Linked DNA regions of Homo sapiens: region 2 is linked to region 1. Evidence: fine-mapped expression QTL. A gene starts in region 1. The other region holds a variant in brackets. All regions are shown on one strand. Distances are from middle to middle.

What was found. PIP is the estimated chance that this variant, and not a neighbour inherited with it, causes the effect. A credible set is the group of variants that fine-mapping cannot tell apart.
Region 2: its variant is the best candidate, but not a certain one, in a credible set for the expression of IL1B in whole blood (INTERVAL, PIP 0.68).

What each region holds. Positions count from the first base shown.
Region 1 is chr2:112,835,171-112,839,532 of GRCh38, forward strand. IL1B (interleukin 1 beta) reads right to left here and starts at 1,609. Exons shown (of 7, transcript NM_000576.3): 1 at 1,538-1,609; 2 at 1,013-1,074; 3 at 396-447. The coding sequence starts at 1,059.
Region 2 is chr2:112,698,549-112,702,947 of GRCh38, forward strand. No RefSeq gene overlaps it. Among named protein-coding and RNA genes, the nearest start is that of NT5DC4, 20 kb to the right of the region's middle. The variant T/G (reference allele first, on the strand shown) is at 1,790.

The DNA of each region.
Region 1 (4,362 bases):
AAAAGGGGTAGACATATGTTAGTTCTCAAGATCATCTCTTGGTTTCAGAGTTTAACTCAAGTGATTGGCATAGGCTGAATCCATCTCTTAAAAGGATAATCAAATTTATGTTGAAGACTTGGTTGTCTTCCTACTATGAAATGGGAAACATTATCACTACTCCTCCCCTGTCACCACCAAGTGTGGCCACCACCACCAACGTTAGTGAGTGACTGTGGTGATATGATGACCAAGTGGCCAGGTCAGCAAGTGGTGCAGCCTGTGTCTCACTGGAAGAGGTTAAAGTCTTTCTAAAACAAAATACCATGGCATCAAAGTGGCCCAGAACTCCCTTCTTTGAGCTTTCCCTGTGTTAGAGCCCTTCCTTGGGTTGGGAGTTAAACCCATAGTCTTACCTTCATCTGTTTAGGGCCATCAGCTTCAAAGAACAAGTCATCCTCATTGCCACTGTAATAAAAACAGGGACATGTCTCAATTATGTCTTCTAAACAGGTTTATTTTTCCTTCCCTGTGTACAAGACTTGACTGTTCATAAGAAACTGCAAACAGCCTGCCTCTCAAAGCTGCCTGAAACACCTGGCAAGTTTCACAGTGATATGCGCAGAACAGTCCAGAAGGCAGATTCTAGGCCTGGCAGGTGGGCACCCTGGGTGCTCCCTGTTGGATCTTGAGGCCTAACCTCTAGCCCAGCAGAGTCAGCTAAAATCTGAGCTCTCCCTCTCCCTCCAAGCCACACTTTGCAAAGGGATTCCTTGTATTGTGGGCTTGGAGTCTTTTCTCCCCATTTGCCTCTGCAGGAAGCCCTTGCAACAACACATCTGGATAGCCTCCAGGTCCCAAGGCTGGAGGGACTTGTAATGGGAAAGTAGTCTTTAAATCAGATTTACTTGGCACCCTGTTTGCCACTGAAAGAGGCAATTTAGGGGAAAAATCTGGTCTCCAAGCACAGATAACACTCTACTCTTGAAAGAGGAGACCTGCTCATGTTACTGGTCTCAGCGTCTCCACTGACCTGTAATAAGCCATCATTTCACTGGCGAGCTCAGGTACTTCTGCCATGGCTGCTTCAGACACCTGTGTAAAAAGGAGAAAATGAGTGACTTCCCCATGACGGCTACGTTCATGTGTGATTTCTCTCAGCATCCAGTGCATGGCAGTCATGCAAAGAAATGATCTCTGAGTAAATGAATGAATGTGTGAAAGAGAAGTCCTTTGGGTCTAGAGAAAAGCATTTGCTAAACCAAACCCCAACTAGCAATGTATTGGCTAGGAGAGCTGGAGCAGAGGCTTTGACACTAACCTTTAGGGTGTCAGCTGTTAGATAAGCAGTATCCATTCCCAGAATATTTCCCGAGTCATAAGCATTATATTACACCTGGCATTTTTGCAAAAAGCTGAGAGAGGGAGGCAGAGAGGGAAGGAGAGGGAGAGACAGAGAAAGAAAGAGAGAGAGAGAGAGAATATGCATACACACAAAGAGGCAGAGAGACAGAGAGACTCCCTTAGCACCTAGTTGTAAGGAAGATTAAAGTCATACTTGAGCAATGAAGATTGGCTGAAGAGAATCCCAGAGCAGCCTGTTGTGCCTTGTGCCTCGAAGAGGTTTGGTATCTGCCAGTTTCTCCCTCGCTGTTTTTATGGCTTTCAAAAGCAGAAGTAGGAGGCTGAGAAATTTCTCTGTTGAATACCTGATTTCACAATCAAGTTAAAGGAAAGGGGAAAAGAGTATTGGTGGAAGCTTCTTAGGGGAGGGGACTAATAAACTGAGATAATTCTCTGGTTCATGGAAGGGCAAGGAGTAGCAAACTATGACACATTTTGCAAATGTATCACCATGCAAATATGCATTGTTTTCCTGACAATCGTTGTGCAGTTGATGTCCACATTAAAATACTGGATTTTCCCACGTTAGAAGAATGTTTAAATTTAGTATATGTGGGACAAAGTGGAAGACACACAGATTTATACATGCACATACTTTTCTTCATTCACTTCTTTGTACTTAAGTTTAGGAATCTTCCCACTTACAGATGGATAAATGGGTACAATGAAGGGCCAATAGCCCTCCCTGTCTGTATTGAGGGTGTGGGTCTCTACCTTGGGTGCTGTTCTCTGCCTCAGGAGCTCTCTGTCAATTGCAGGAGCCTCTGAGGAGAAAATTGACCTTTCTTGGCTGGGGCAGAGAACATACGGTATGCAGGGTTCAGGCTCCTGACGGAGTTGGGGCAACCCTGGAGATAAGCTCACACAACCCTGCAAGACCAGGTGCTGTTACCCTAGCCAATCTCATGGATGAACCAGATCAATGCCAGATGAGCTCTGCCTAAAATGATTTTTTGGTGAACTCTGAAAAGTGGAATATTGTTTCTGTAAGAATATCCATCTGAGACTCTATCTCTTGGTAATACCAACCAAGAGTTATCAGTTTCTCTTTAACCGAGACACCAGCAAAGTGCCTGCTCCAGGGTACTGCCCAGGGGAGCCCTCCATTTGTAGAATGAATGAGAGTCCAGGTTATGAACAGTGCCTGGAGTGTAGGAACACCCTCCTTTGCCTCTTTGACAGGTCTGCATCATAACACTTTTTTTTTTTTTTTGAGACAGAGTCTCACTCTGTCGCCCAGGCTGGAGTGCAGTGGCACGATCTCGGCCCCCTGCAAGTTCCGCCTCCCGGGTTCACACCATTCTCCTGCCTCAGCCTCCCCAGCAGCTGGGACTACAGGCACCTGCCGCCACGCCCGGCTAATTTTTTGTATTTTTAGTAGAGACAGGGTTTCACCATGTTAGCCAGGATGGTCTCGATCTCCTGACCTTGTGATCTGCCCGCCTCGGCCTCCCAAAGTGTTGGGATTACAGGCGTGAGCCACCGTGTCCAGCCTGTAACACTTCTTATAGCACTGAGTTGAAACCTTGCTCCTCCTGGTTCCTCCAGGAAACTGAAATCTTTTTGAGCCAAGTCTAGCACAGTGCCTGGCATGTACATTCAGGTGGTAGAGTTTGCTGCTTGAATGGGTGAATGGGAATTTGACAGCATTTTTATTCAAATTAGTATGTGCCAGGTATCGTGCTCGCTCTGCATTATCCAAGGGAGTGAGCCTCTGTGCAAGTATTTGAGACACGAGGGAAATAGGTTCTACTGTGGGAAAAAGAGCATTTCATGGACTTGCTCTCCAAGCAGCCTTCTGATTTTTAATTTGGCTCCCAGTATCTTGATATCAGGAGTCAGTCACAAGAACTCCATCTTTAGTAAGTTATATTTTCCACAGGAAATCTAAAAGCTGTTCAACATGTTAGTTTCCTGTGAATTTGATAAGCCATAATCCATTCCTAACACTGAGCCCTCCTGAAATTTGGTGTCTGGTCCTGCAGATAGCTAAAAGCCCTGTCTGGGTGGCCTAGGGGACTCCTCTGTTTTGCCTCCACAGGATCCACTTTGCAAATTAACCACTGGTTCTCCCGTTGTAGGAACTGCCACCTTCCTCAGAGCCTGTCTTTCTTCCTTCCTTCCTTCCTTCCTCTTTCTTTTTCTTTCTCTCTCTCTTTCTTTCTTTTCTTTTCTTTCTTTCTTTCTTTCTTTCTTTCTTTCTTTCTTTCTTTCTTCCTTTCTTTCTCTTTCTCTCTTTCTCTCTTTCTCTTTCTTTCTTTCTTTCTCTCTCCCTCCCTCCCTCTCTCTCTTTCTTTCTTTTTCTTTCTTTTCTCTTTTCTTTCTCTCTTTCTTTCTCCCTCCCTCTCTCTCTTTTTCTTTGTCTCTCCCTCCCTTCTCTCTCTCTTTCTCTTTCTCTCTCTCTCTCTCCTAGACAGGATCTACCTTTATCCCCCAGGCTGGAGTGCAGTGGTACAATCATGCATTCATTGCATGATCACAGCAGCCTCAAACCCTTCCTCAGAGTCTTTATGCGGCAACCAGCAGGGTCTGGAGGGTTGGTGGCTCTGTGAACTCTCCTGACAGAACACAGAGATGTCTTTGGTCTGTTGATGTGATTACAAGCTGAACGAAGGAGGATCAAAGCCAGTGACAGGAAGGGAGATATGCAAGGGACCCGAGCATCAGCTCTGAGTTAGTCCATTCTGCTTCTGGGACTTGGGATACAGGTCAGAAACCTTGAGCTTCTACTTCTCCATCTTCCAATTGTAGCATCCAGGACCTCAGAATCTGCCAGCTAAGAGGAGCCCTAATGATTGTCTGGTGGGATATGGTGGGACCACAGAGATGAAGACATGAATAGCTATTTGAATGTGAACAGCAGACGAAGAAATCAAGGCTAGGAGGGTGGAAGTGACTCATCCAATAGCACAGTGTGGTTGAAGCAGCACTAGTATCCAGGTTGCATGAGCCCCTGATGCTTTCGCTCGAGGGAAATTT
Region 2 (4,399 bases), 140 kb before region 1:
TTTTTATGGCTGCTTAGTATTCCATACTGTAGAGGTACCACATTTTCTTTATCTAATCCATGGATGAGCACCAATCCATGATTTTGCTACTGTGAATAGCACTTTGATGAACATACAAGTACATGAGTCTTTTGGTAGAACTATTGTTTTCCTTTGGGTATATACCCAGTAATGGGACTGCTGGGTTGAATGGTAAGCTCAGCTTTAAGATCTTTGAGAAATCTCAAAATTACTTTCCACAGTGATTAAACTAATTTACATTCCCACTAACAGTGTCTAAACCTTTTATTTTCTCCACAGCCTCATCAGCTGGTTTTTTTTTAATTTTTTGACTTTGTAATAATAGCCATTCTGACTGGTGTGAGACGGTATCTCATTATGGATTCGATTCCCATTTTTCTGATGATCAGTGGGTGGAGCATTTTTTTCATATGTTTGTTGGCTCCGTGTGTATGTCTTCTTTGGAGAAGTGTTTGTTCATATCTCTTGCCTACTTTTTAATGGGGTTATTTTTGTTGTTGTTGTTACTCCCTTCTTTTTTTTTTTCATGCAGAATGTAGATACTATTTGTTCTGCAAACTTTTCCCCCACAGTTGTTGGTAAATCTTGGAGGTCTTTCCTTACTAGTAGATAGAAAGCTTCCTCATTCTTCTTTTTTTTTTAATTGAGGTATGATTGACATGCCAAAAAGCTGTACATATTCAGTTTGTACATCTTGATGAGTTGAAAATAAATATATACCCATGAAACTGTCACCATAAAAAAGCCATAAACATAACCATCAAATCTAAAAGTTTTCTCTCTTCCTCTTTTTTTGTGGGTGTGATAATGACATTTAATATGAGCTCTGTCCTCTTAACACCATTTTAAGTATACAATACAGTATTGTTAATTATATGTGCCATGCTGTACAGCAGATCTCTAGGACTTGTTCATCTTGAATAGCTGAAGCTTTGTACTTTTTGACCAGCATTTCCCTGTTTCCCTCTCCCCCCAGTCCCTGGTAACCTCACTTTTCAAAGTCGTATGTGTATAAAGTATTGCATTACTGTGGGGCCTTAACTTTATTTAACCAGCCTTCTATTGATGGATATATGCTACTTATTTTACTGTTATAAGCAGTGTTACCATGAGCAGCCTTATATATGTGGACATTTTGGATTTGTACAAATCAATCTGAAGTGTAAAAGTGGAATGGGTCAAAGAAAGGATTGATCTTTTTTTTTTTTTTTTTTTTTTGTAGAGTCAGTATCTTGCTGTGTTGCCCAGGCTGGAGTGCGGTGGCACCATCGTGGCTCACTATGGCCTCAAACTCCTGGGCCCAAGCAATCCTCCCACCTCAGCTTCTCAAGTAGTTAGGACTACATCACAGCCAACTAATTTTAAACATTTTTGGCAGAGATGGGGTATTGCTCTGTTGCCTGGGCTGGTCTCAAACTCTTGAGCTCAAAAGATCCTCCCGCCTCTGCCTCCCAGAGTGCTGGAATTATAGGCATGAGCCACCACACCTGGCTGATTTATCTTAATTTTGATAGATGCTGTCAGATTGCCTTCCAGAAGTGGTTGCATCCATTTACATTCCCACGAATAATGTTTGAAAGTTCCTCTTTCTCCACAGACTCACCAACAGAGAATATTATCAACTAGTTGGATTTTTGCCAATGTGATAGGTGAAAATTATCTGTAGTGTTAATTTGCAGTTATTTTATGAGAGATTTTGATGATCTTATACATTTAAGAGCCAGTTGTTTTCCTTTTCTTTGAATTGTTTGTTCATTTTTCTCTTATT[T/G]GGTTATTGATGTTTTTCTCAAAGCTCTTTATGTATTAGGGAGATTCACTCTTGTCTGTGTTACGAGTTGTAAGTTCCTCTTCCCACAGTGTCACATGCTTTTGGTTTTGCTTATGGTGTATTTCATCACTGCCTTCTGAATTATGATTGCTTAAATTTTTTTTTTTAATTTTGAAATAATTTATGACCCAAAGAGTTACAAAGATAGTACAGAGAGTTCCCTTAAATCCTTCTTTCAGCTTCCCCTACTGTCCTCCAGAATTATGGTACAATGACTTTCAGTCAGAAAGGTAACATTGACTCAGTGGAGTTAATTAATACATAGATTTCAGTTGGGTTTCCCTAGTATTCCACCTAATGTCCTTTTTCTGTCCAGCATCCAATCTAGGATCCTGTTTTGATTTAGTAATGATATCCTCTGAATCTCCCATCTGTCACAGTTTCTCAGTCTTTTCTTGCTTTTCATGACGTGGACAGTTTTTAACAGTAATGGTTGGGCATTTTGTAGAATCTTCCTCAATATAAGTCCATTCAATGTTTTCTCATGGTTATATGAAGGTTATGGATTTGGGGGGAGAATAATGCAGAAGTAATGTGCTTTTCTACCAGTGTACCATGTCAGGATACATGATATTAACTCTGATTGCTTGGCTAAGACAGTGTCCAGCTGGTTACTCCACTGTAAAGTTTCTATTTTCCCCCTTGTAATTAACAAGTATTTTGGGGGAGGTACTTTGAAGCTACTGAAATATCCTGATTTTTCTTAAGCTTCTGATGCAGGGCAAGTGAGCCTCCAAATTGGAGATTAGCCAGAGGGGGTTTTTGGCTTTGCTCAGGAAAGAATTCAAGAGTGAGCCAGTGGTGTGAGACAGCAACTTTTATAGATGCGGTAGTGAAGGGCAGCAGCAGAGGAACTGCTTCTTCTGGAGCACGGCTACCCATAGGCAATGTGCCCAGAGCAGCAGCTCAGGGGCAGTTCTGCGGTTATACTTATACGTACTTTATTTATTATCATTATTATTTTATTTTTTGACAGAGTCTCACTCTGTCGCCCAGGCTGGAGTGCGGTGGAGCGATCTCTGCCTCCCTGGTTCAAGCGATTCTCTTGCCTCAGCCTCCTGAGTAGCTGGGACTACAGGCATGTGCCACCACGCCCGGCTAATTTTTTATGTTTTTAGAAGAGATGGGATTTCACCATGTTGGCCAGGCTGGTCTTGAACTCCTGACCTCAAGTGATCCACCCGCCTCAGCCTCCCAAAGTGCTGGGATTACAGGCATGTGCCACCATGACTGGCCTGTATTTTATATACAAATTAAGTGATGGGTTATTCAGAAATTTCTAGAAAAGGAGTCATAACTTCCAGATGTTGCCATGGCAATGGTAAACTGTCATGGCACTGGTGGGTGAGTCTTATGGAAAGATATTTTTGGTGCCTCTTCTCTGTTTCAGCCAGTCTTCAATCTCATCTGGAGTCAAGTCCTGCCTCCTACCTCACTTCTACCCACTAATTTTAGCATTCTTATATGGATCTTGTTACAGACTGGGCCAGCTACATAATTTGTAGGTCTTAGCACAAAGCGAAAATGCTGGGATTGCAGGCCTGAGCCACCGTGCCCCATCAATCATTGCTGTTTTAAAATTAATAAACTTTATCTTTTAAAGCAGTTTTAGTTTCACAGCAAAACTGAGCAGAAGGTGCAGAGTTCCCATCCACCTCTCCCCACCCATGCACAACCTCCCACACTGTGGACATCCCCCACCAAAATATTAAAAATCGATGCACCTGCACTGACTCATCCTCGTCACCCAGAGTTCATAGTTTACATTAGACTTTGCTCTTGGTGCTGTACATTCCATGGGTTTTGACAAATGTATAATTACATGTATCCACCATTATAGGATCATGCAGAATAGTTTCCTGTCCTCAAAATCCTCTGTGCTCTGCCTGTTTGTCCCCTCCCTTCCCCCAACCCTTGGTAACCACTGACTTTTCTGCTGTCTCCATAGTTTTGCCTTTTGAGAATGTCATGTAGTTGGAATCATACTGTATGTATCTTTTTCGGCTGGCTTGTTTCACATAGTAATATGCATTGAAGTTTCCTCCCCGTCTTTCCATGGCTTGATAGCTAATTTCTTTTTAGCAGTAATATTCCATTGTCTTGATGTACCACAGTTTATTTATCCATTCACCTATTGTAGGATATCCTAGTTGCCTCTAAGTTTTGGCAATTATAACTAAATGTGCTGTAAACTTCGGTGTGCAGGTTTTTTTTTCTTTTAGACAGGGTCTCACTCTGTTGCCCAGGCTGGAATGCAGAGGCACAGTCATTGCTCACTGCAGCCTTGACCTGCTGGGCTCAAGCAATCCTCTCACCTCAGTGTCCCAAGTAGCTGGGACTACAGGCATATGTCACCATGCCTGGTTAATTTAAAAAATTGTTTTAGATATGTGATTTCCCTATGTTGCTCAGGCTGGTTTCAAACTCCTGGGCTCAAGCAATCCTCCAGCCTTGGCCTCCCAAAGTGTTGGGATTGCAGGTGTGAGCCACCATGCTTGGCCTCTCTGTGCGGATTTTTCTGTGGACATAAATTTTAAATTCATTTGAGCA